Linked DNA regions of Homo sapiens: all the other regions are linked to region 3. Evidence: fine-mapped expression QTL. A gene starts in region 3. Each other region holds a variant in brackets. All regions are shown on one strand. Distances are between the middles of the regions.

Region 1 (8,185 bases), 34 kb after region 3:
TGAAATTGAGGAAGAAGAGGTAAAAACATTTTCACAAAGTTGTTTTTAACCCAAGTTTGAAATATTTTGAGAAATAGTCATTAGATGATGTGAGAAATGGATAAGCAAATAGTACTTCCACTATTGACAGTGACTAGTTTACTTTGAAAGTTCTTTGCATTTTGTGGATGCTGTACGGTTGCTAATAGTACACAGTTGAAATTTGGGAAATTTCATTTAATTCTGATTTTTTATTTGGTTGGGGTTTTGTTTTAAGCATACTTGAAGTTTATTTGAGTACTAACCTATGGTTGAGAGGATTATTTTTCCCATATGTGTAGACCAGTTAACCAAGTTGAGTTTTGTATATCTTTATTATAACAAAGACTTTTGGGGCCAGATAGCTTTCTTTTCTGTTACCATACATGACAGCCAATCCCAATCATCATCTCCTGGTTTCCATTATCATTGGTTATGTGATGGGACCATGTGTAGTGATGATAGCTCAGTACAAATAATTCCCACTGCTTACTGTGTTTTTCAAATTGTTGATCCTGCATTATTTTTCTTAAATGGATTTGTAATGGAATAGTAGAGTCCCACAAAATAAATGCTTAAATCTCTGCTGCTTTTTTTAAAACTTCAAAAACTTTCCATATATTTCTAATAACTCACTTAACTGTAATTATACAATGATTAAATCTTTCAATGGTATGCTACAATAGATTATGTTTTATTATTTTTAATTGACAATAATTGTACATATTTATGGGGTACAGCGTGATATTTATGGGGCACAGTGTGATATTTTGATACATATATACAATGTGTAATGAGCAAATCAGGGTAATTAACATATCCATCACCTCAAGCATTTAACATTATTTGGTTTTGGAAACCTTCACCATCCGCTCTTCTAGCTATTTGAAAATATACAGTAAATTGTTAATTATAGTCATGCTATAGTGCTGTAGAACATTAGAACTCATTCTTTCTATCTAGCTTTGTTCTTGTATCCGTTAGCCAACCTGTGGCAGTCCCTCTTCTGCTACATTTTATGACAATTTGTTGTATAGTTCAAGATCCTTCTTTCAGATTTTATTTTTAAATGGCAGGGGAATAGGTACACTCAAGTACGTCTACATTGTTAGTAGGCCTGATATAGATTTGGGGCAAGTGGACATCAATAGTCCTTCCTCAGCCAGGCAAGGTGGCTCATACCTATAATACCAATACTTTGGGAAGCCAAGGCGGGTGGATCACTTTAACCCAGGAGTTTGAGACCAGCCTGGGCAAATGGCAAAACCCCATCCCTACAAAAAATACAAAAATTAGTTGGGTGTTGTGGCACGTGCCTGTGGTCCCAGCCACTTGGGTTGGGGGTGCTGAAGTGGGATCCGCTTGAGCCATAGGAGGCAGAGGTTGCAGCAAGCCAAGATCATGACCCTGTCTTTAAAAAAAAAAAAAAAAAAGTTCTTCCTGGTACCCATATCCTACAGGTCTCAAATATATTTTATCAGAATGACCAAAGCTTTTGATGTACAAATCAAAATTTATACAAAATGATTCAGTGCTATGGAAAACATGTTTTGTTTTTCATTTGCTTTGTGAAAGGGTTCTGTAATTTGCTACAGTAAGATGCCAAGTGGTCAAGGTTCCAGATTTTTCCACTTCTATTGGAGAAGCTCCATTTTTATATAGTTGATTGGGGTTCTGTATGTAGAAATACAGGACAAATAAAGATATATTTGAAAAAAAAGAATTGTGCTTTAGAAAAAGGTTAAAAACCACTGGTATAAAACTTTAGGACTGCAGGAGAAAGTATATGTGTGTATATCCAAGCCATGTATCCAAAAAGGATCTAGTATGCAGAGTTTATATCTTACAACTCAGCAAGTAAAAAGATAACCCAATTTAAAAATGGGCAAAAGACTTGAATAGACATTTTTACAGAGAAGATATATGAATAATCAACAAACACATGAAAAGATGCTGAACATCATTAGTCATTAGGGAAATGCAAAATCAAAACCACAGTGAGATACTGCTTCACCCTCAGTAAGATGACTATTAAAGTAATAACAAGTATTGACAAGGATATAGAGAAATTAGAACCCTTGTATATTGCTAGTGGAAATATAAAATGATTCAGTGCTGTGGAAAACAGTTTGGCTGTTCCTCAAAATATTAAACATTACCGTATATTTCACACCTAGATATATACCCAAAAGAACTGAAAACCGAAGTTGAGCAAGTACATGCACACACATGTTGTAGCAATGTTGTTCACAATAGTCAAAAGGTAGAAACAGCCCAAATGTCCATCAGTGAATGAATGGATAAACAAATTGTGATAATATACATACAATGGAATATTTTTCGTCCATAAAAAGGAATGAAGAACTGATACATGCTACAACATGCATGAACCTCTAAAACATATTAAGTGAAAGACGCTAGACTCAAAAGGTCACATATTGTATGATTCCTTTTATATGAAATATTCAGAATAGGTAAATCTGTAGAGAGAAAAAACAGATTGGTAGTTGCCAGGGGCTGGGGAAGAGGAAAATGGAGAGAAATGGCTTAGTAGGTAAGGGGTTTTACTTTGGAGTGATGGAAATGTTTTGGAACTAGATTGTAGTAGTTGCACGTTATAATAAATGTACCAAGTACCACTGAGTTGTTCACTTTAAAATGGTTAATTTTATGTTCTGTAAATGTCATGTCATTTATTTGGAAAAGATACTTTAGGACTTCTGTTACCTTTTTTATCCCTGTGTTAGAGTAGACTTAAAATAATTTTCTAATGAAAAGTTTTGAATCTGCCTACATTTGCTCTGTTGGCTTTATCCTCATACATTAGTGGGATGGCTATCCAACAGTCCAAGCTCTACTTAATTTCCTGAATTTTAAGAAGACACCAGCAAGCTCCCCTGCCTAGCCAAAAGTCATACAATCCTGCCTGGAGAATGTATACTCCTGGAACTAGACAAAGAATAAAGCCTTCCAAACTCTACCATTTAATTTATATTTAAGAGTTTAATTAAGGCCAGGCGCGGTGACTCATGCTGTAATCCCAGCCCTATGGGAGGTCGAGGTGGGCAGATCACTTGACCCCAGGAGTTCAAGACAAGCCTGGGCAACATGGCAAATCCCCGTCTATACAAAAATTACAAAAATTAGCCAGGTATGGTGGCGTGCACCTGTAGTCCCGGCTATTCAGGAGGCTGAGGTAAGGGGATCACCAAAGCCAGGGGAGATTGAGGATGCAGTGAGCCATGATTGTACCACTGCCCTCCAGCCTTGGGCGACAGAGTGAGACTCTGTCTCCAAAAAAAAAAAAAAGTTTAAGAGAAATGAAGTCAGCCAGGCGTGGTGGCTGACACCTGTAATCCCAGCACTTTGGGAGGCTGAGGCAGGCAGATCACCTGAGGTCAGGAGTTCGAGACCAGCTTGGTCTCGAACATGGAGAAACCCCGTCTCTACTAAAAATACAAAATTAGCCGGGCGTGGTGGCACATGCCTGTAATCCCAGCTACTTGGGAGGCTGAGGCAAGAGAATCGCTTGAACCCGAGAGGCAGAAGTTGTGGTGAGCCAAGATTGCGCCATTGCACTCCAGCCTGGACAAGAACGAAACTCCATCTCAAAAACCAAAAAAAAAAAGAGAAATGAAGTCTTCAAGGGTATTAAGATAGCATTTTGTTTAACATACCTGTTCCCAGTAACTGTTGAACATAATTTTTTTGTCATACATTTAGCCTACATCTTCCGAAAAAGCTGGGGGAAACCTGGTGATATAGAAATGCTATGCAGGAGTTCCACAGGTCTTCTCATCTCTTTGCATTTGGGGGTGAGATATTTCTTCATTGTATAGGACAGGGTTCAGCAAGCTCTGACTCCTACAAGCCAAATCTTGTCCACAACCTGTTCTTGTGTCTGTTTTTAAATAGTTGAAAAAAATCAACAGAATTGTATTTTGTGACATGAGAAAATTATATGAAATCCAAATTTTAGTGTCCATAAATAAAATGTTATTGAAGCACAGTCATGCTTAAATTTTAACGTAGTATTTGTAGTTGTTTTCCCATTACAAACAAAATTGAGTAGTTGCAGCAGAGACCCTATAGCCTGCTAAGACTAAAGTACTATCTCCTTTACAGAAAAAGTTTGTTGACCCTAGGTGTAGGCTACTGAAAGCATTGTGTTTCGCCTACTCAGTTCCCACTCCCTAGATGTCACTAGCATCTTCCACTACAGTGACAGAAAAAAATGCCCAGCTAGGTTTGCAAATGGCCCCTTGGGGTGTGGGAGTGAGTAGGGAGGGTGGTGAGATGTACCTCTCCCATTTGAGAACCAACACATAATATGTGGTATCTCCTTTGTTAGTCTTTATAGGAGTCCATAAGGAATTTCTCTTAGGTCTCTATATTAAGAAATGTTATGTTTCTCCTGGTGTGAATCTCATAACTGATTGTGTTTCCTTTTGTTGAGACTTTTGGAAAAAGAGCCAGATGGTTGGAAACAGCCTGCCTGTAGTAGCTGTGTGAAAATTTATGTGATCTCTATCTATATATAGATGTTACCTTGACTATGGTTTATTTTCCTATCTTTATTTTCATTTACCTGCTTTTTACATCTTTTTTAATATACCACTCTATTAGGTGCATTCTTTAAAAAAATTATTTTATTTTATTTTTAGAGACATGGTTTTTATTACTGTG[C/T]TGCCCAGGCTGGTCTTCAGCTCCTGAACTCAAGCAGAGTCATCCTGTCTCAGCCTCCCAAGTAGCTGGGATGTAGATGTATTCTTAAGTTGCTGTAAATCCTATTTGGAATTAGATTTAATTAAATAAGAAATATTAACTGAACAACAACCTAAGTGAAGATTTTTGTAATCTGAAATTTCACTCACAAATGCTGCTCCCATCTGTTTGAATTCAGATCAGTAATTATTAATAACTAGATGTTAATGCTGACTATTTGGTCTATCTCATTTAATTCCCAAAACAGCCTCATAAGATAGATAATGCTGTTACCAATATTTTATAAATAATTGAGTTTTAGGCTGAGGTGGAGGATCACTTTGAGCCCAGGAGTTTGAGGTTACAGTGAGGTATGAGCCTGGATGAGAGAGACCCTCTTAAAGAAAAGAAAAAAGAGAGAAACTTGAGTTTTAGAAAGATAAAAAAAACTTGCCCAAAGTGTCCCACATAGGAAATTATGGGACTGGGATTTAAACCTATGTAGTATAGACTCCAGTAATGATGCTCTTAACACAGTACCTTATACTGGTTTTAAAAAGCATTTTTAGCAGAATTATTGCATGGTTTGGGGTTTTGTTTGGGGGTTTTTTTTGTTGTTGTTGTTGTTATGCTTTTGTTTTTGTTTTGTTTTGTTTTGTTGAGATGAGGTCTTGCTCTGTTTCCCAGGCTGAAGTAGAGTGGTGCAATCATGGCTCACTGCAGCCTTGACCACATGGACTCAAGCGATTTCTCCCCCTTCAGCCTCCCCAGTAGCTGCGACCACAGGCACATACCCTGCTAGGCTGATCTCAAACTCCTGGGGTCAAGCAATTCTGCCTCTGCCTCTGAAAGTGCTGGGATTACAAGTGTGAGCCACCACGCCTAGCTAGAATTGTTTTTTTAAATGAAAATCTAATTTTAAAAAATAATAGAGCACATTAAAGTGGTATTAATAATAGATTTATTTTTTGTAAATTGAAACGTGTGTTATTGTTAGAAAGTCAGTTTATGAGATAATTGAGGTTGTTTTGATGACTGCAGCCTCTAGTTTATTTCTATATTTTTAGTTGGGCAGTATGGAGAAAATCCTCATTCATACCTACATTGCATATGATAACAGTTAAAATCTTTATTGTAATACATGCTTGCATTTTACAAATTCAAATATTACAGGAGTATACTGCATAAAAGATAAAGTTCTCCATAATTCCTACTGCCCTCTAAAATAACCACTAACAACCTTTTTAACAACATGCCTTGCATTCTTCTAGCTTGAAAGAATAGTAAATCAAAGCAGACTCACCAACAGATGAACATTCTGTAGCATAAATATAATCAAAGAGCTAAAATTATTAGTAATAATAGATAATACAATAGGATGTCATTTATTGTTCCAACTGATTTATGCTATGAAAAGGGCAATCTGAGCAGGAATGTCTTAGTCTTTCCTGACATTTAATTTACCATCATAACATTCGTAGACTTGTACAGCTGTAGCATCTTTTCAATGCAGAAATAATTCTTTATGATGAGTGACACATTTCTTAGAAGTTAAAATTTGTGTACGGAGATGGCAGAAGAATCTGTCTAGGCCTGCCTCAAACTGGGTTACTGTAGCAAAAAAAAAAAAAAAAAAAAAATTATCAGTTGGTGTTCCAATATGGAATGTAACACATTTTAGAGTGTATTTTTTCTGTTGCCCAGGCTTGGAGAAGTGTAGTGGCAAGATCATGGCTCACTTTAGCCTCCACCTGTCAGGCTCAAGCAGTCCTCCCACCTCAGCTTCCCAAGCATGCACCACTACTCTCTGCTAATTTTTAAATTTTTCTTGTAGAGATGAGGTCTCACTGTATTGCCCAGGCTGGTCTCAAACTCCTGGGCTCAAGCAGTCCTCCCACCTCGGCCTTGCAAAGTGCTGGGATTATAGGCATGAGCCACCATGTTCGGCCTAGAATATATTTTGGAACTGACATTTTAATTCAAATAGGACATCTCTACCATGCCCTGGGATTTTTGTAAAATAGAGTTTGGAAACTGTTGGTTAGGATTCTCAAGAATTGGTGGTTGTCTCTGTTCCAGGACCATTAAAGTTTTATAAACCCTGTTTATCAAACTCTTCAATCCTTAAATGTTTTTGTCTTATGGGCTATAACTGTAAGAAATGGAATGACTGTTTGGTGAGATAATAGTACCAGGAAAGCTGAATTTTGATTCCACTTTCTATTTTGGTGTAGTATGAGGTTCATATTATTATTAATACCTACTCTTGTTTGAATCCCCAGGAGGGACCAGCTCTGATTCTTTCTGTATACAAGTGATTTCACCATGTCAGTTATTTCTAAAGCCTCCATAACAAATAGTAATAAACCTTGCTAGCAGAAACAATAAATAAAAAACTTCGCTGGGCGCGGCTGCTCACACCTGTAATCCCAGCATTTTGGGAGGCCAAGGCAGGTGGATCACCTGAAGTCAGGGGTTTGAGACCAGCCTGACCAATATGGAGAAACCCTGTCTCTACTAAAAATACAAAATTAGCCAGGCATGGTGGCACATGCCTGGAATCCCAGCTACTCAGGAGGCTGAGGCAGGAGAATCGCTTGAACCCGGGAGGCGGACGTTACAGTGAGCCGAGATTGTGCCATTGCACTCCAGCCTGGGCGACAAGAGCGAAACTCTAGCTCAAAAAAAAAAAAAAAAACCTCAATGGGACATATAAAGCAGCCTGTATGAGAAGAGTTATAGGTAAAAGGTGCTATAAACATTTGAAAAATCTGCTTCTTACTGAGAAAAGGAAATTTACCTTCTTCAAGCTCTAGACCCATCTGTTTTAGGCATCTTTGTCCTTTTTTCTCCATTCTTTTTTTTTTCTTTTTTTTTTTTTTGATGGAGTTTTGCTCTGTTGCCCAGGCTGGAGTACAGTGGCACAATCTCGGTTCCCTGCAACCTCCGTCTCCTGGGTTCAAGCGATTCTCCTGCCTCAGCCTCCTAAGTAGCTGGGATTACAGGCACCACCACCACACTCAACTAACTTTTATATTTTTAGTAGAGATGAGGTTTCACCACATTGGCCAGGCTGGTCTTGAACTCCTGACCTCAGATGATCCATCCACCTCGGCCTCCCAAAGTGTTGGGATTACAGGCGTGAGCCACCGTGCCCGGCCAAGCCACCATGCCTGGCCCTTTTTTTTTTTTCTTCTTTTCTTTTCTTTTTGAGACAGAGTCTCGCTCTGTCACTCAGGCTGGAGTGCAGTGGTGCACAATCTCCACTCACTGCAAGCTCCGCCTCCTGGGTTCATGCCATTCTCCTGCCTCAGCCTCCCAAGTAGCAGGGACTACAGGCGCCCTCCACCACGCCCGGCTAATTTTTTGTATTTTTAGTAGAGACGGGGTTTCACTGTGTCAGCCAGGATGGTTTCAATCTCCTGACCTCGCGATCCGCCTGCATCAGCCTCACAAAGTGCTG
Region 2 (8,185 bases), 130 kb after region 3:
TAGAGGAATAAATTCTGAGCCTGTCTAAGGTGGGGCTAAGGAACAGATGAGTAATAAGAGGCTCTTGGATTTTTTTAACCAATGCAACTGACCCTTTCAATCAGTTTTCTTTGAATTACATCTACAAGTTTTGTTCCACTCAGCTACCAGTCAACTAGGCATGCTCCACAGTATCACAGGAAGAAGGTCAGAAATCTGGAACTGAAGCTAAAAGAAGTGAGGATGTAGAAGCCACATTCCTCTCCAAGGTAGTGTGTGAAAGAACCGCCCCCTCTTGACAGGAGGATGACCGTCGCCATTCTTGCGTGGGACTGACTCACCCAGCTGAGAGGAGGACCAATAGAAAGAAAATTCACATTTGAGTCCACCTCTCTCCCCCTTTTTCTGGCCTTCATTCATAAGATCTGGTTGTTTGGGCTGTAGGTGGCATAATTCATGTTTATTTTGGCCTCTGTCACATCCAGTTTCTTTAGCTTTTAAGGTAAGCTTCTTTTGGCTTTTTTTCATATGTTCACCAAGCTAAAATTTAAAATAATAAGACCAGGTTTCTCTCTGTACAAGTGGATTATAAACATTTTCACCAAATCATAACAATACTCCAGCTTTCCGGTCCGACTTCCTAGGAGCCTGGAGTTAGCAAAGGTTGTCTCTGGATTTCATTCTCTGAGAATATCACAGAGCCTGGGAGAAGATGAATTTACATGAAATTGCAACATACACACCTTTTTATTTTCTGGTGTTAAGCTAGTTGTCTTTCCTACCTTACAAATCATGTTAGTTTTATGATTTGTTCCGCATGTTTTATGTTTATTGTAGAAATGTTTATATAACATACGCTTTCCATATCAGGGAAAATCATATCTGTTTAATAAATTGGCTATAACTTTAATATCTGTGGACAACTTGTAAAATTTGGAATGTATCATATGTAAAAAGTTTAAAGATATCCAAATAAATGCTTTAGGTGTTGGCATTACTTTTGGTTAGCATATATCTTTCTGTTTCATTTTACACATTTACCTGCCACAGCAAGGTGCCCGTGTCACCTTGCTACAAATATAGTGGGATATCTGTATTAGCTTTAAATTTAAGAGGGTTATATTATTATGGCCACTAGCCAAACTATCTTGACCTTCTCAGAGAAAGTGTGATCATCATTTCAGCTGATTAAGTTTCATATTCATTAGCCATGACAGCGTGTGACCTTTGTGGACCATTTTGGAACTCAAATCACTGGGAAACAGGGCACTCCAAGACCTGTGTCTGGGTTTAAACTCTTGTTCATCCTTACCTGGTGATCTCAAGGTCCTTGTCCTTACACACTCCCCTAGTGTGCTGGCTGGTTTTTCAGGGCTGTTGGAGGTTTTTTTTTTCTTTTTTTTATGACCACTTCCTGCTTTTGAGAGAGAGACATAGAAAGGCAGCTACACTGTCTTCCTAGGGGAGTCATTGCCCATGAGAATTCTGTTTTTTTTGAAATCCTCTTGAGAGCATCAAACTAAAACAGCAAGGTTTCCATTGCACTCACCCTGCCTCCTGGTCAGTAACACTGCTCCCAGCCTACTGCCTTCACCACTCTTGTCTTTAGTTCCAGGAACTCATGAAGCCCCTTCTGACATGCTCCTCCCTGTCTTCCTACTCTTGATTTTGGTGTGGTGGTGGTTTGGTTTGGTTTTTTTAAAGAGACAGGGTCTTGCTTTGTCCCACAGGCTGGAGTGCAGTGGCACAGCCTTGGTTCACTGCAGCCTCAACCTTCTGGGCTCGAGCAATCCTCCCACCTCAGCCTCCCAGTAGCTGGTACTATAGAGGCACATGCCACCACACCTGGCTAATTTTTGTATTTTTTTTGTAGATACAGCCGCGCTATGTTGCCCAGGCTGGTCTTGAACCCTTGGGCTCAAATGATTCTCCCGCCTCAGCCTCCCAAATGCTAGGATTATAGGTGTGAACCACTGTGCCTGGCCTGTTCCTACTCTTGTTTTTTAAGTCACATTTATTGAGGTATATTTTACAAACAGATTAACTCTTTTTAGTGTACAGTTTTATACATTTTAACAAATGCATACAGTTAAACAACCACAATCGAGAAATAGAACAATTCCATCTTCCCCAAAAGTCCCCTTTGTAGTCAGCTTCTTGCCTCATCCTGGCTTTCAGCTACCAGTGTTTTTCTCTCCCTTTGTTTTGTCTCTTCCCGAATGTTATATAAATGGAATTGTATCATATGTAGCATTTTGAGTCTGGCTTCTCACTAAAGAAGAATGCATTCGGGTCCTCCCTGTTCCTTTGGATTGCTGAGTAGCATTCCGTTGTACAGACTTCTGGGCAGTTGCCAGATGAAGGGCATTTGGGTGAGTTTGGGTGATTGTTTTGGTGATTACTGCTACAAACATTCATGGATGGGTTTTTGTACAAACCTGAATTTTCACTTCCCTCAGGTAAATAGCTAGAAGTTGTCCCTTACATCTTAATCCTCCATTTGATGCCATCCTGAGAGCTCAGCATTCTCTAATCTGTAACTTTGCTGTTTACAGTCCTCTGTGATGGACAGGATAAAATGCTGTCAGGAGTTAAGAACTGACATGTTTTTCCCCTTCCAGCCAATCTATCCATTGTGACCTGGGAAGGCACTTGTCTCTTCCCTGGACTTTCATAGTATTGGACAGACACTTTTCTCTTCCTAACACAGTGGTGCTGCCTGCCTGCGCTGTCATTGAGAGCCATCTTTTTAGCCAGTCGTGGATGAAAAGCCCTGTCTTGGTCCACGATTTTCCCTGGCTAAGCTGCAAACATGCTGGCCTAGTGTAACAGGTGCCCGGACGAGGAGGGGCAGGGGAGCGTGCAGAGCGGGCACCTAATCTTATTAACCCATATTAAGGTTACTAGGGGTTTATTTACTGGCAGCTCAGTCCCAGGCTTGAAGCATGTTGTAAAGAAGCTGTGGGTTCTGGAACTGAGGCCAAAAATTCTAGGACACAGCTTCCCAAATATTCAGGATAGTCATCACCTGTTTCTTCACCGTGGAGTGAGCATTTTAAAAATGAAAGTCCTAAGGCCCTGTCTACCCCCACCCCATCCCGGGGCTATGCTGGCAGAACTTTAAAAGCTAGCTGGGCCAGGTGGCTCACTCCTATAATCCCAGCACTTTGGGAGGCCAAGGCGGGCAGATCACCTAAGGACAGGAGTTCGAGACCAGCCTGGCCAACATGGTGAAATCTCATCTCTAATAAAAATACAAAAATTAGCCGGGCGTGGTGGCAAACGCCTGTAATCCCAGCTAG[T/C]AGGGAGGCTGAGGCAGGAGAATCACTTGAACCCAGGAGGCGGAGGTTGCAGTGAGCTGAGATCATGCCATTGCACTCCAGCCTGGGCAACAAGAGCAAAACTCCATATTTGAAAAAAAAAAAAAAAAAGTAGGCTGGGTCCCTCAGGAGAAAAGGATTTACACCAGCCCAAGGAAAGACTGAAGTTACACACAAGCAAAAACCTGATAGCAGAGACTTCCTGGGCACTGGTAGGTGACCAAAAGGGATGGTCCAGGTTTCTCTCGCAACTACCGGCTACCTGAGAAGACCTGTTAAAATGCAGTTAACCCTAAGCCTGCTCCGAACCAATGAGTGAGATTTATTGTAGAGTCAATGCACTCTTGGTCCTCTCAACAACCTTCAGATTCTCAGGTTGTTCACATTTGCTCCTATAACCTGGCCCCATAGAGACTCATATTTCCCTGTTTGAGGAAATAACGTTTTGGCCAGAGGAGAAGAAAAAATGGCTTGGAGTTTTGCCTAAATTTCTACATTAAAATTCCATGTATTCAGCTCTGGTTCAAACTCCAGCAAATGCTGAGATTATTTGGATATAATAATAGTCACTGTTGTAATAGTCACCGTTCTTACAGGTAAGAGATGGCAAGATGGAGAGATGTGATACCCAAGCCATGTTTATAACAACGATTGTTACCAATGCTTCCCTTAGGGTGGGTTTCTTTTCTTTTTTGGCAAATACTAGCGGTAGTAGGGGATTCTGATATATGTTGTTGAATGGGCTTAAACAGTCATTTAACAAAAGTGATTTTCATACAGTATGAATTTTAATTATCTATTGACAGCTGTTAACAGCATAGTTACACTTGTGGGCCTAGAGCAGCACTTTCACCGTGGTTCTCAGCACTCTTGAGAGATAGCAAGAGCTCAGGGACCTTTGCCAAAGATGGCTGGCTCAGCATTTTTTCAGTATGGATCATTCCTTGGCCTCAACGAGATTCAGAAATCTAATTAAACTTGGGACCAACGTCTGACAGGGTGTCCAAACATCTTGGATCTGGTCTTCTGCTTGGGGGAATTAAGCCCAGAACATACCCCAGCAGCACCAGAAGTCTTATTTTCTCTACACTGAAGTTCTTAGGACAGCAGAGAACCCAAACTCAGTCCAAAGTAACCTATTCCCAAACACCATCGGTCAGAAGCAGAGGTAAGTTATGGACTGTTCCCTTTCTGGTTTTTGCCTTCTGGCCTCGGTCTCCAGCCAGGTAGGAACGAGCTCTCTTGAATGTTCATCCAACTGGAGGAATTATGCTGGGCCCTGCCTTGGTCTGGTCACCAGGGCTTGGGAAGTCAGCAAAATCATTCTCTCCTTCCCCTGAAAGCTTCTCTTTCCTAAAGAAAGTGAAAACTCCTGTATTTGCTAGCTCAGGAAGATGGGCTATCTCAAAGAATCTCCTTTGATGCAGAAGCATTCCAGAAATAGTGTTTTTCAAGATGGGTATCTGGGGGGAAGAAACGGAAGAAGCTCCCAGAGGATTCCTTGCCCTTTGCTGTGGACAATTAGTGTTGTCCATGGGGCTGTGATGGCCACCTGTGTGGGTGTCCCTGGGCCCACCAAGAGCTGAGGCCTGGTCTCCAAAGGGTGGACTCATGTCTGATTGTTGCTCCTCTTCCACAGCAGGGCAGCAGCCTACCCCACTGCTTCCACCGATGAGCCACAGGAGATCACCTGGCACTTTAGGGGTGGTGTGGTGCTGGGACACGCCAACAGCCTGACTTCCTCAACCCGTGGTTCACTCCAGACTCAGTGACCGAGGGCATGTGAATGGGACACAAAAGCAGGCCTTTCACTGTGTTTTTGGTGGGGGATAAAATCCCCTGCCTTGAAATTCTCTTGCTCCATGATTAAAGAATCCTGTTTAGAGCCCTCAATGCCTTAAGAGTCCATTATTCTTAGAAAAGCGTAACTTTCCCCCAACTTCTGGCATTAAGCAAACGGCCAACCTGTCAATCTTGGCATTAAAAAAAAAAAAAAAAGACAACATGGCCATTTTTCAGATTTCTGTGCTTATGCACCAAGTGACACTTTGGATAGAGTGAAGCAACATGGAGCTCATAAGAGGTAAATTCTAAAAGGGGAGCAGCCCTCAGATACGGCCAGTGGCCATAGGGTGGGACTAAATCCGTGTGAGAAAGATGGGTCCTGGGCTAGTCGTCTGAGACAGCCCCCGAGTCACCAGGAGGGCATATCCTAGGGCAGCGGGCCTGAAGGGAGCTTCACTCACATTCACATTAGCTTCATTCACATTTTGGGTCAGTCATTCAACAACTGTGTGTCAAATGCTTTTAGGGACCCTAAACTTAAATTCCACCGTCAGGGAGAGTCTCTGTAAGATGGTGCCCTCCTTGGGAGATTCAGACTTTCGGAGTTGGATGAGGGGGAGATCCACGTTTCTTGGAGTGCACTATTTCTCAGTGTTCGGGAGGGGAGGGGCCCCAGGGCCCTCAGCCAGCCTCTGGGGCCTGGCCTGCGTCTGCGCCCTCGGCTTCCACCTGGTTGCCCTTGCCCAGCTTCTTCACACTCTCCAGAAAGGCCTTCCAGGTCTCCGGCACGCTCCTCTCCAGCAGCCAGCCCTGGCTCTCGCTCTCAGATTCCTCGGGGTTGGACACACCATCCAGCGACGTCTGTAGGTAGCGCAGCCCAATTGTAATGGTCACCTGGTGGTGGGAGAGGAGATTTAGAGGCAATCTGGGAGAATCGCTGGGAGCTGGACCATTAGGAAACCACAGGAGCCTCAAATTGAGGGTCCCAGAGAGGACTCAACCTGAGCACTGTGGAGTGTGGGTTGGTGACAGCCTGCCCCACGCTGCCCTGTCCTCAGTGCTCAACACACCTGACTCTTCTCCAGCCTCATGTCAGACCCCTCTCCTCCTCCCTTTCCAGCCATCCTGGGCTGCTTCGGATTCGCCCATGCCCCCTACTTTCTCCCCTCTAGGTCTTTACCATCTGCTATGCTCTCTGCCTAGAACCTTGCTCCTCTCCACGTTCATCTGTTAATTCATCTTCAGCCCTTGGTGAGCTCCCCGGCAGCTCATCCTCCCTCCCCATCCCCTCGGGTCGCCCCCATCCCAGGTGCATTATTCCTGGGTGCCTTCACCTCTACACCCCATTGCTTGGCACATATTGGGTAGTTCAGTAACTGCCTTGGGTGGAATTAAGAGGTCACCTCCTTTTCTGCATCTGATGTGTGGTACTTCTTTTTTTTTTTTTTTTTTTTTTTTGAGACAAGTCTTACTCTGTCACCCATGCTGGAGTGCAGTGGCGTGGTCTCAGCTCACTACAAACTCTATCTCCTGTGTTCAAGGAATTCTCATGCATCAGCCTCTTGAATAGCTAACGTTGCAGGTGCCTGCCACCATACCTGACTAATTTTTGTATTTTTTTGTTGTTATTGTTGTAGATATGTGGTTTCCCCATGTTGCCAGCTGGCCTCGAACTCCTGGCCTCAAGATCCACCCGCCTCGACCTCCCAAAGTGCTGGGATTACAGGTGCGAGCCACCATGCCCAGCCCTTCCATTATTTTGATGAGCACAGTGATGAATGGATGCTGGTAAAAAATAATTTGGATTTGTTCACTAGCATTCACTGTGTGGCAGACTTGGTGCCAAAATGCCTGGGTTCAAACCCGGGCACTTAGCCAGCCGTGTGACCAGGAAACCTCACTTTATTCATCCGGTTTGCAGATTTTCAGATGAAGTGGTGCCCACCCCGTGTGGATACTGTGCCACTTTAATATGTGTAAAACACACAGGCCAAGTGCAATGGTGCATGCCTGTAATCCCGGCACTTTGGGAGGCCAAGGTGGAGGGAGGATTGCTTGAGCTCAGGAGTTCGAGACCAGCCTGGGCAACATAGCGAGACCTCATCTCTACTAAAAATAAAAATAAAAATAATTGCCGGGTGTGGTGGCGCGTGCCTGTAGTCCCAGCTACCCGGGTACTTGGGTAGCCAAGATGGGAGGATCTCATGAGCCCCAGAGATGGAGGCTGCAGTGAGCCATGACTCCACCACTGCACTCCAGCAAACACCACCACTGTACCTAGTGCACAGTAAGGACCAACAGAAGAGCAGAAGAGTCAGCTGTAGCTGATAATTAGCTTATTGTTTTCACTTTTTTTTTTTTTTGAGATGGAGTCTCGCTCTGTCACCCAGGCTGGAGTGCAGTGGCACGATCTTGGCTCACTGCAATCTCCGCCTCCCGGGTTCAAGCAAGTCTCCTACCTCAGCCTCCCGAGTAGCTGGGATTACAGGCGTCAAAAACTTGGCACCACGCCTGGCTAATTTTTATATTTTTTGTAGAGACAAGGTTTCGCCATGTTGGCCAGGCTGGTCTCAAACTCCTGACCTCAGGTGATCTGCCCGCCTCAGCCTCCCAAAGTGCTGGGATTACAGGCGTGAGCCACCACACCCTGTTTTCATTTTTCTATAATATATTCCGTATATTCCGTTAGCCACTTGTTTCTGTACAAATTCCCGGCTTGCTCTCCTCCACTTCTTTGTATGGCATAGCAAACTCTACAAGAGGATGAAGCTGCTCCCTGAGGGCAGGGATGGCCCTGACTCATCTGGCTCACTCAGAATCCCAGCACCTAGAACAGTACCAGGTAGGGGGAGGGCCTCAGTAAATCTCTTTTGAATGAATGCTCTGGGACATTTTATAATTATGGCAGTAGATAATAATAACTGATAGAGTTTTAGATTTATGTTACTGCTATTGTCAACTGGAAGTTGAATAAATATTTTTACAGCAGAAAAAGTCACCTCCTCCATGAAGTCCTCTTGATGTGAACGCGTCCACTCTGATCCCCTCCTGCTTTCCTGAAGGAGGCTCTCTGCACTGTGAGTTTTGCACTTGGTAGTGAT
Region 3 (8,185 bases):
TTGTTACCCAGGCTGGAGTGTAGTGGCACAATCTCGGCTCACTGCAACCTCCACCTCCTGGATTCAAGCGACTCTCATGCTTCAATCTCCCGAGTAGCTGGGATTACAGGTGCCCACCACCATGCCCAGCTTTTTTTGTATTTTTAGTAGAGACAGGGTTTCATCATGTTGGCCAGGCTGGTCTTGAACTCTTGACCTCAGGTGATCCACCCGCCTCGGCCTCCCAAAGTGCTGGGATTACAGGCATGACCTCTACAGATTTTTTTGGTGGTGAGATAATCTACCCCTCTGGAGAAGACCCTCCCAAACTCTTGCCTGGGAGGTATAAGCCTGGCCACTAAGGTTCTCAGAGCCAAATGGGGAAATAAGCTAGGTTATCCCTGTTCACTATGTAGACTTTGATTCATCTCTCTTGAATGCAGTGCGGTATCCCTGTCCTCAGCTGTGTCTGGTGTCTCCCAGTCAAAAGGCCCTCAAGTGTAGTCACTCTAGAGGATAAAGCTCTAGTCTTCTTCCAGAGTAGGAAGTGAGATCTAACTTCTTGCTATACAGACTTTCAAACAATAAGCTTGCTTTTAGCATTGTCTTCACCCACTTTCAGAGTTACATGGTGCCTCAAATTTTTAAGTCTTTCAGGGTACTGCATATTAATTAGCTTGACTCAGTGTCTCTACTGCTAGCGGAGGTTTCAGCATTCTCTTAGTTACTTCTCAACCACTTGCTTTCCACCAAATTTTGGTGCTGTCATCCTCTCTTCTTTTCTTTTTTTCTCCCTTTACTGTCATGAGGTATTCAATCTGCCACATTTAACTGGAAGTTGGGGCTTAGCTCTTAATGCCCCCATGGGAACAGAAAACAAGACCCTGGGTCAAAGAAACATTGGAATTGCAACTGAGATCCTCTACATAAAGCCAGGGCTTTCAAAGGAATGTCGTATCAGTGAAAGGGTAGACTAGACAAAAAACCCACCAACTGGCATACAAAAATGACAAAGAAGCTCTTTACCTTGACTCTGAGTAGGAAAAAGAACTCTCCTTAAAAATTCATAGACAGGCCGGGCACTGTGGTTCACACCTGTAATCCCAGCACTTTGGGAGGCTGAGGTGGGTGGAACACCTGAGGTCAGGAGTTTGAGACCAGCCTGACCAACATGGTGAAACCCTGTCTCTACTAAAAATACAAAAATTAGTCAGGCATGATGGTACGTGCCTATAATCCCAGCTACTTAGAAGGTAACTATGCTCACCACTATACCACCAACGCATCTAATCCCAGCTACCTAGGAGGCTGAGGTAGGAGAATCGCTTGAATCCGGGAGGCAGAGGTTGCAGTGAGTCAAGATTGCACCATTGCACTCCAGCCTGGACAACAAAGTGAGACTCTGTCTCAAAAAAACAAAAATTATAGACAGAGAAATGGCACACAACTGAATTAATACTATTAGGGAATCTTCAAGCCTAGAAACTGACGTACAATTGGTCCTAGATACAGGATACTCCTAGAGTGCCTGGTCCTGAGTATACGATGTTTTCTAGGTTGTCTGGCCTTGCAGAAGCAAATGAAAAAGTATTTTGAAAGTATTAATACATGGAGAGTCCCACTGCTAATGCTACTAATGCTAAGTGAAGATGATCTCCAAATTCATAATTATGACACACAAGGGAAACAATTTTTTTTTGAGTCAGGCTCTCATTCTTTCACCCAGGTTAGAGTTCAGTGATACAGTCATAGCTCACTACAGGCTTGAACTCCTAGGCTCAAGTGATCTTTCCTGTCTCAGCCTCCCAAAGTAGCTAGGACTACAGACATGGGCCACCATGTTCGGCTAATTTTTAAATTTTTTTGTAGAGATGGGGTCTTGCTATGTTGCCCAGGCTGGTCTCAAACTCCTGGCCTCAAGTTATCCTCCAATCTTGGCCTCCCAAAGTTTTGGTATTACAGGTGTGAGCCACAATGCTCGGCCTGAAACAAATAATGTTAGGAAGCAAATAATGTTAAGAACAGAAATTGCCTTTACAGTCTATTAACGACTTAAATTCTATGTTAGGACAGCTCAAGAGATGTTGTTTTTGCTTCTAGGCTGGGACAATCCCAGTTTTCTTCCAAGTTGACTCTGTCCTGAGTGGATCAGTGTAAGGAAGTTGGGCAAAAAAAGAAAAATACATAGAAGAATATTTCAAGATATCTCATTATAAATATCTGTACAGATATGTGCATACTTTTTTCTGGACAGACTCATAAGACAGTGTCAAAAATGATTTTCTTTGGGGAGAGGGACTTGGGGTAAGAGGAATAGGAAGTTTTCAATTTTCCTTTTTTAAAACATTCCTTTCGAGTTTGAATTTCTGATGTTTTATATGTATATATATATATAACTTTTAAAAAGTGATAAGAAGGCTTACTTGTATTGTGAGGTTACAGGGATACAGGCAGTTTCTTATTTCCTTTTTTAAAAAACTGGTTAATATCATAGTATTGGTTTAAAAAAAATCCCAAAACAACATAAACATAAACATGTCCTAAACCTGGTCTGGCTCAGAACTTTTCCCCCCTATATGTAATTTACAACCTACTTCTGGGAATAAATTAACACACTTGACAAAAGGTATAAACAATTTTCTGACAAACTCTAGAGACTGAAGACTTCTAAGAAGCCCAGTCACCCAGCTGTCAGTCAAGAGTCTAATTACCTTTAACTAAACATAGTTTTCTTTGATAGCTAGTCTAACAATGTTTACCTATTTCTTTTTTTTTTTTTTCCTTCTTTTTTGATACAGGGTCTCAGCTGTGTCACGCAGGCTGGAGTGCAGTGGGCTGATCACAGCTCACGATGGCCTCAACTGCCTGGGCTCAAGCAATCCTCCTGCCTCAGCTTCCCGAGTAGCTGGGACTACAGGCGTGCCACCACACCTGGCTAATTTTTTGATTTTTATCAAGAGGGTCTCGCTATGTTGTCCAAACTGGTCTCAAACTCCTGGGCTCAAGTAGTCTGCCCCCCTCGGCCTCCCAAAGTGCTGGAATTACAGGCATGAGCCACCAAGCTTGGTCTGATTATCTGTAGAAATTAAATGTCTCTATCAAGAGGAAATCTTTTAATTGGCCTAATAGACTCTTTTTCCTTTGCAGCAAGATTTGTGATAAAGTTTATAAGTGGTCATCACTAAAGTTTTTGAAAAATTTTTTAAAACATGTTTTAAACCTTCAAAAAAGTGGGTAATGTTCACCTCCATTACTCGTATAAAAGATATGGGTTCGATGGATGACAGGACATAGAACCACAGGAATAGAATGTAATTCATTCATTCCTTTGACAAGTATTTGAGTGCCTACCCTATGCCAGACTGGCAAGTCCTTGAGGGTCTACCATGTGCCAGGCAGTGTTCTTGAAGCTGGGGATACAAAAATGAACAAACGAGATTCGGAGAATAAAACTACAGTTCCCACAGTATCTTTCTCTTTGGCTTTTTTCCAGGGGGCGCTGCTTTCCGCGACTGTCTTCCCATGATTCTCGTTGGGCAGAAAAGCCCCGCCCGCTTATCTGCCATTTAAGCCAGCGCCCCTTGAGAATGGACTACAACTCCCACAATGCATTCGAGGGGCACCGTGTTAGGGCGCCACCTTTTTCCCGGCTGTGCTGTACCTACAGCACCCAGAACTACAGTACCCAGAAAGCTCCGCTTCCCCTCCTGGGTGTTATTGCCCCTTTCCTGGTGCAGGACGCGGTAGTGGCCAGCGAGAGTGTCAGGCCTGGGGTTTTCTGTGTCCTTCCCTGGGTCAGGGACGAGCCAGTGACTTGACTCTTGGGCGCTAAGCTTGGGAGGGAGCGCAGGAGGCCGCTGTCCTTCCTTTCCGGTTCACGTCACCCTTCTCTCCCTCTGTTGCTCCACCTGCAGCCACTTGGACGGCTCCGGGACTGATTGCCTGGGGCAGGGGTGGCAGTCGAGGCCGCCGGGGCCGAGGTGAGGCTGCAGCTCTCCGGGCGGCGGTAGCGCTGGGGAGGAGGAGGAGAGAAGATGGCGTCGGAGCTAGAGCCAGAGGTGCAGGCCATCGACCGGAGCTTGCTGGAATGTTCGGCCGAGGAGATTGCGGGGGTGAGTGCCGGAACCCGGGCGGGTGCGTCTGCCCCTCGCAGGCCGCGCCTGTGGGGAGGAACCGACTCCTGGACGTCCTGGAGCAGCCCGACCCAGACTTGGGGAAACAGCTGTGCCGGCCCTCGCCTTGTGGGGTAATAGCCCGGGGAGGCCACCGATCCTGCCCCTCTCTTTCCATTTTCAACAGCTGCCAGAGCTGCGCTGTGCACTAACTACGTTTACTTTCCCTTTCTGCCCAGGAGAACCCACGGCTCTTCCATCATACCTCCTTTCCCCCAGCCTCCCATTAAGTCTCCCAACACATGGGCCTTTGCCCTTTATATCAGCTCTTGGAAGAGGAGAAGAGACGCTTCTTGTGTTTTTGGTATAATCGCCCTAGTTTATCTAGTTAATTGCTTTTCCTGAGACAAGCGAAGCCGTGTGCTCCTCCGACTAAACATGCCACCCTAACCGAGCCCCTCTTTTGTTTTTGGGACTGCCCCAGGCACCAAGAAGGCAAACGACACTACCCTTCGTTATCCGTTTCAGTGCTATCTTTTTTTTTTGCACCGGTTTGATTAGTTGACAACGTTGATGCATGTGTGGAAAGTTTACTGAGTATGAGAAAGTAGTCGTGGAGTCTGGGAAATTTTAAAAATATTTTTTCTAGGAGTTAGGGGTAATTGGATGGAGAACAAATGTTATATAACGTTGATAGAGCAGCTTTCAACAAATACTGTATAAGCTAAACGTGAGAACTGGTCACAGTGTAGTAGGAGCAGTTATATTCCAAACGTAAAACCGTTCAAACGCACTATTGCATTAAAACTGTAATATGAATATGCTAGTGTAAATAGCAGAGTTGTAGGAACACCCATTAGAAGAGATTGCCGAGAATGATTATGAATGGACCAAGACAGCTTGGGCCCCACCTCTAAGACCTCCAATTAAAAAGGCTGCTAGGAAGGGAGTGACCCGTGAATAAAAGTCAGCAATCTGAATGCTACGAACAAAATTTGGGATTGGGGGCACTGTGGAGCTGTTGGTCAGTGAGTAGTTATTTTGCGTGAATTGGTGAGGACATTAAGTCCGGGTAGAAAGAAATGTCAGGAGTAGAGGTGAAGACTTTAAAGAAATACGTTGTTAAATGCTGAATCTTTGCTTGTTTGGGTGTGTTTTGTTGTTGTTTGTTTTTGTTTTTGAGACGGAGTTTCGCTTTCGATGCCCAGGCTGGAGTGCAGTGGCGCGATCTCAGCTCACCGCAACCTCAGTCTCCCGGGTTCAAGCGATTCTGCTGCCTCAGCCCCTCGAGTAGCTGGGATTACAGGCATGCACCACCACGCCCGGCTAATTTTGTATTTTTAGTAGAGTTGGGGTTTCTCCATGTTGGTCAGGGTGGTCTCAAACTCCCGACCTCAGGTGATCCACCTGTTTGGGCCTCCCAAAGTGCTGGGATTACAGGCGTGAGCCACTGCGCCCTGCCTTGGTGTGTTTTTTTAAACCTACTTACTTGTTTAGCCTAGGTCTGTTTTCATTTACTTTCTACTTAATGTTGTACAACTCAAGGAATTTCTGCCTTTCGTTTATCGGAGATTTGAAAAAAGAAAATGAAAGTAGTGTTACAAGTAAACTGTTAAATAATAATGACAGCTGTTTGCTCTCCATGCCTCTTCTAATTGATATCTGTTGCTTACCTCAAAGTACTGTTTTGATTTTTTTTCTCTCACTGAATTTTGTGTCTTGGTCCAGTGATACAGGGTACAAATTCCGTTATCCCATTCTAAAAGTGCAAACTATCAAGTGATTAGAGGTTCTCCAATTTGTAGAGGCTCCTGAGGAAACTGGTTATAAAAGTAGTGCGGGAGGCCAGTGCTCCTAGTTCTTGTTCAGTGAAATTCTCAAGCAGATGCAGTAAGGAAAAATCAAGGAAAATGCAACAAAAAATTATTAATTTGGACTTCATTTGAGTTTGTGAAGATCATAATCTGAGCTACATTTTACCCTGTTTACTTTTTTTGTTTGTTTTTTTGAGACAGTCTTGCTCTGTCGCCAGGCTGGAGTGCAATGGCGCAATCTTGGCTTACTGCAACCTCCGCCTCCGGGGTTCAAGTGATTCTCCTGCCTCAGCCTCCCGAATTACAGCTGGGATTACAGGCGTACGCCACCACGCCTGACTAATTTTTGTATTTTTAGTAGACACAGGGTTTCACCACATTGGCCAGGATGGTCTCGAACTCCTGACCTCAGGTTATCCGTCCGCCTTGGCCTCCCAAAGTCCTGGGATTACAGGCGTGAGCCACCGCACACAGCCTACCCTGTTTACTTTTAAATGCCTTTCTGAACAATAAGTTTTTTTTTTTCTTTTTTTGGTAAGAGATGGGGTCTTGCACTGTTGCCCAGACTAGAGTATAGTGACATTATCATAGCTCACTGCAGCCTTGACCTCCTAGGCTCAAGAGATCCTCCTACCTCAAAAACCAATATTAAAATATAAAATTCCTTCAACTATATAACCTTAATCTTGCCTTACTTTGTGAGGACTTTACTGTCTGTATTAAGTTAAAACACCTAACATTTAAAACTGTTTTTTTCAGCTTAGGCTTCAGCTTTTTTATCACACATTTAAATTAATAAAGTTTTTTCTTAGGTTGAAAGCACATTTTAGGGAAGAGAAACAAGTAGAGAAAACAGTGATTGTAGGCTTTAGACCTCTGTCATTGGTAATTTGTTAGGATCACTTCCATTTAAAAATCACCTAATGAGCACTAGTGTCAACCTTTCCACATTTCATTTACACACCGCTTTTCTTATTCCTGTTATAAGGAGGAAGAACTTTTTGTGATCCCATCCATTCCAGCTAGTATGCCTCACAAAGAAAAGTATCTAAGCTGACTCTTTAATATTTGTAAGTTTAGGATATTACAGTGGCCCTCTCTTCTCATTCTTCTCTTTTCTTGTTAGAATTGACTCCATAAGTATGACTTTCCCAACACTTCTTGGCTCTGTTTACTTTCTATACTACATATGGTTATAGTATGTTCCAGTGAGTGATTACGGTTTTAAAAGTAAACATGCCGGGTGTGGTGGCTCTTGCCTGTAATCCCAGCACTTTGGGAGGCCAAGGAGGGCAGATCACAAGGTCAAGAGATAGAGACCATCCTGGCCAACATGGTGAAACCCTGTCTCTACTAAAAATACAAAAATTAACCGGGCATGGTGGTGCACCCCTGTAATCCCAGCTATTCGGGAGGCTGAGGCAGGAGAGTTGCTTGAACCCAGGAGGCTGGGGTTGCAGTGAGCCGAGATCGCGCCACTGCACTCCAGCCTGGGTGACAGAGCGGGACCCCATCTTTTTCCCTGAATATAAAAGAAATACAGGTTGGGAGCACTGGCTCATGCCAGTAATCCCAGCTATTTGGGAGGCTGAGGTGGGAGGACTGCTTAAGTCTAAGAGTTTGAGACCAGCCTGGGCAACATTAGCTATACCCTGTCTCTACTAAAAAAAAATAAAATAAAATAAATAAGCTGGGTGTGGTGGCATGAACTTGCAGTCCTAGCTACTCAGAAGGCTAAGCAGGGAGGATCGCTTGAGCCCAGGTGTTAGAAGTTACAGTGAGCTATGATCATGCCACTGTACTCCATCTTGGGTGATACAGTGAGACCCTGTCTTCAAAAAAAATTTTGTTTTAATAAATAATGAATTTGTTAAGTTTTATGTAGAGTTTTAGGTCTGTATTGGTTATCTTTTTGCTGTACATTTTTTAAACCGTTTTATTGAGATATAACTCACATACTGTACAGTTAAATTCAGTGGTTTTTAGTATATTCAGATTCATGCAATCATCACTATGATCAATTTTGGGACATTTTTATCACCCCAAAAAAGAAATCCTGTACCTATTGGCAGTCACTTCCCTTTCACACCTAAACTCCTGAGGTCTAATCAACTACTAATTTTTGTCTGTGTAGATTTGCCTATTCTGGATATTTCGTATAAATGGAATTCAACATATTGTCATTTGTGGCTGACTTCTTTCTCTTAGATAATGTTTTAAATATTTATCCATGTTGGGCCAGGCGCGGTGGCTCACACCTGTAATTCCAGCACTTTGGGA

Evidence for each region. PIP is the estimated chance that this variant, and not a neighbour inherited with it, causes the effect. A credible set is the group of variants that fine-mapping cannot tell apart.
Region 1: its variant is the best candidate, but not a certain one, in a credible set for the expression of UBR2 in whole blood (INTERVAL, PIP 0.57).
Region 2: its variant is the best candidate, but not a certain one, in a credible set for the expression of UBR2 in tibial nerve (GTEx, PIP 0.65).

Annotation. Positions count from the first base shown.
Region 1 is chr6:42,594,286-42,602,470 of GRCh38, forward strand. It overlaps UBR2 (ubiquitin protein ligase E3 component n-recognin 2), which reads left to right. Exons shown (of 47, transcript NM_001363705.2): 4 at 1-19. Among named protein-coding and RNA genes, the nearest start is that of UBR2, 34 kb to the left of the region's middle. The variant C/T (reference allele first, on the strand shown) is at 4,705.
Region 2 is chr6:42,692,530-42,700,714 of GRCh38, forward strand. UBR2 (ubiquitin protein ligase E3 component n-recognin 2) reads left to right here. Exons shown (of 47, transcript NM_001363705.2): 47 at 1-976. It overlaps PRPH2 (peripherin 2), which reads right to left. Exons shown (of 3, transcript NM_000322.5): 3 at 4,069-5,978. The coding sequence ends at 5,766. Among named protein-coding and RNA genes, the nearest start is that of PRPH2, 26 kb to the right of the region's middle. The variant T/C (reference allele first, on the strand shown) is at 3,282.
Region 3 is chr6:42,560,307-42,568,491 of GRCh38, forward strand. It overlaps UBR2 (ubiquitin protein ligase E3 component n-recognin 2), which reads left to right and starts at 3,723. Exons shown (of 47, transcript NM_001363705.2): 1 at 3,723-4,091. The coding sequence starts at 4,014. RefSeq lists enhancers at 3,285-3,364, 3,435-3,954 and a silencer at 4,987-5,116.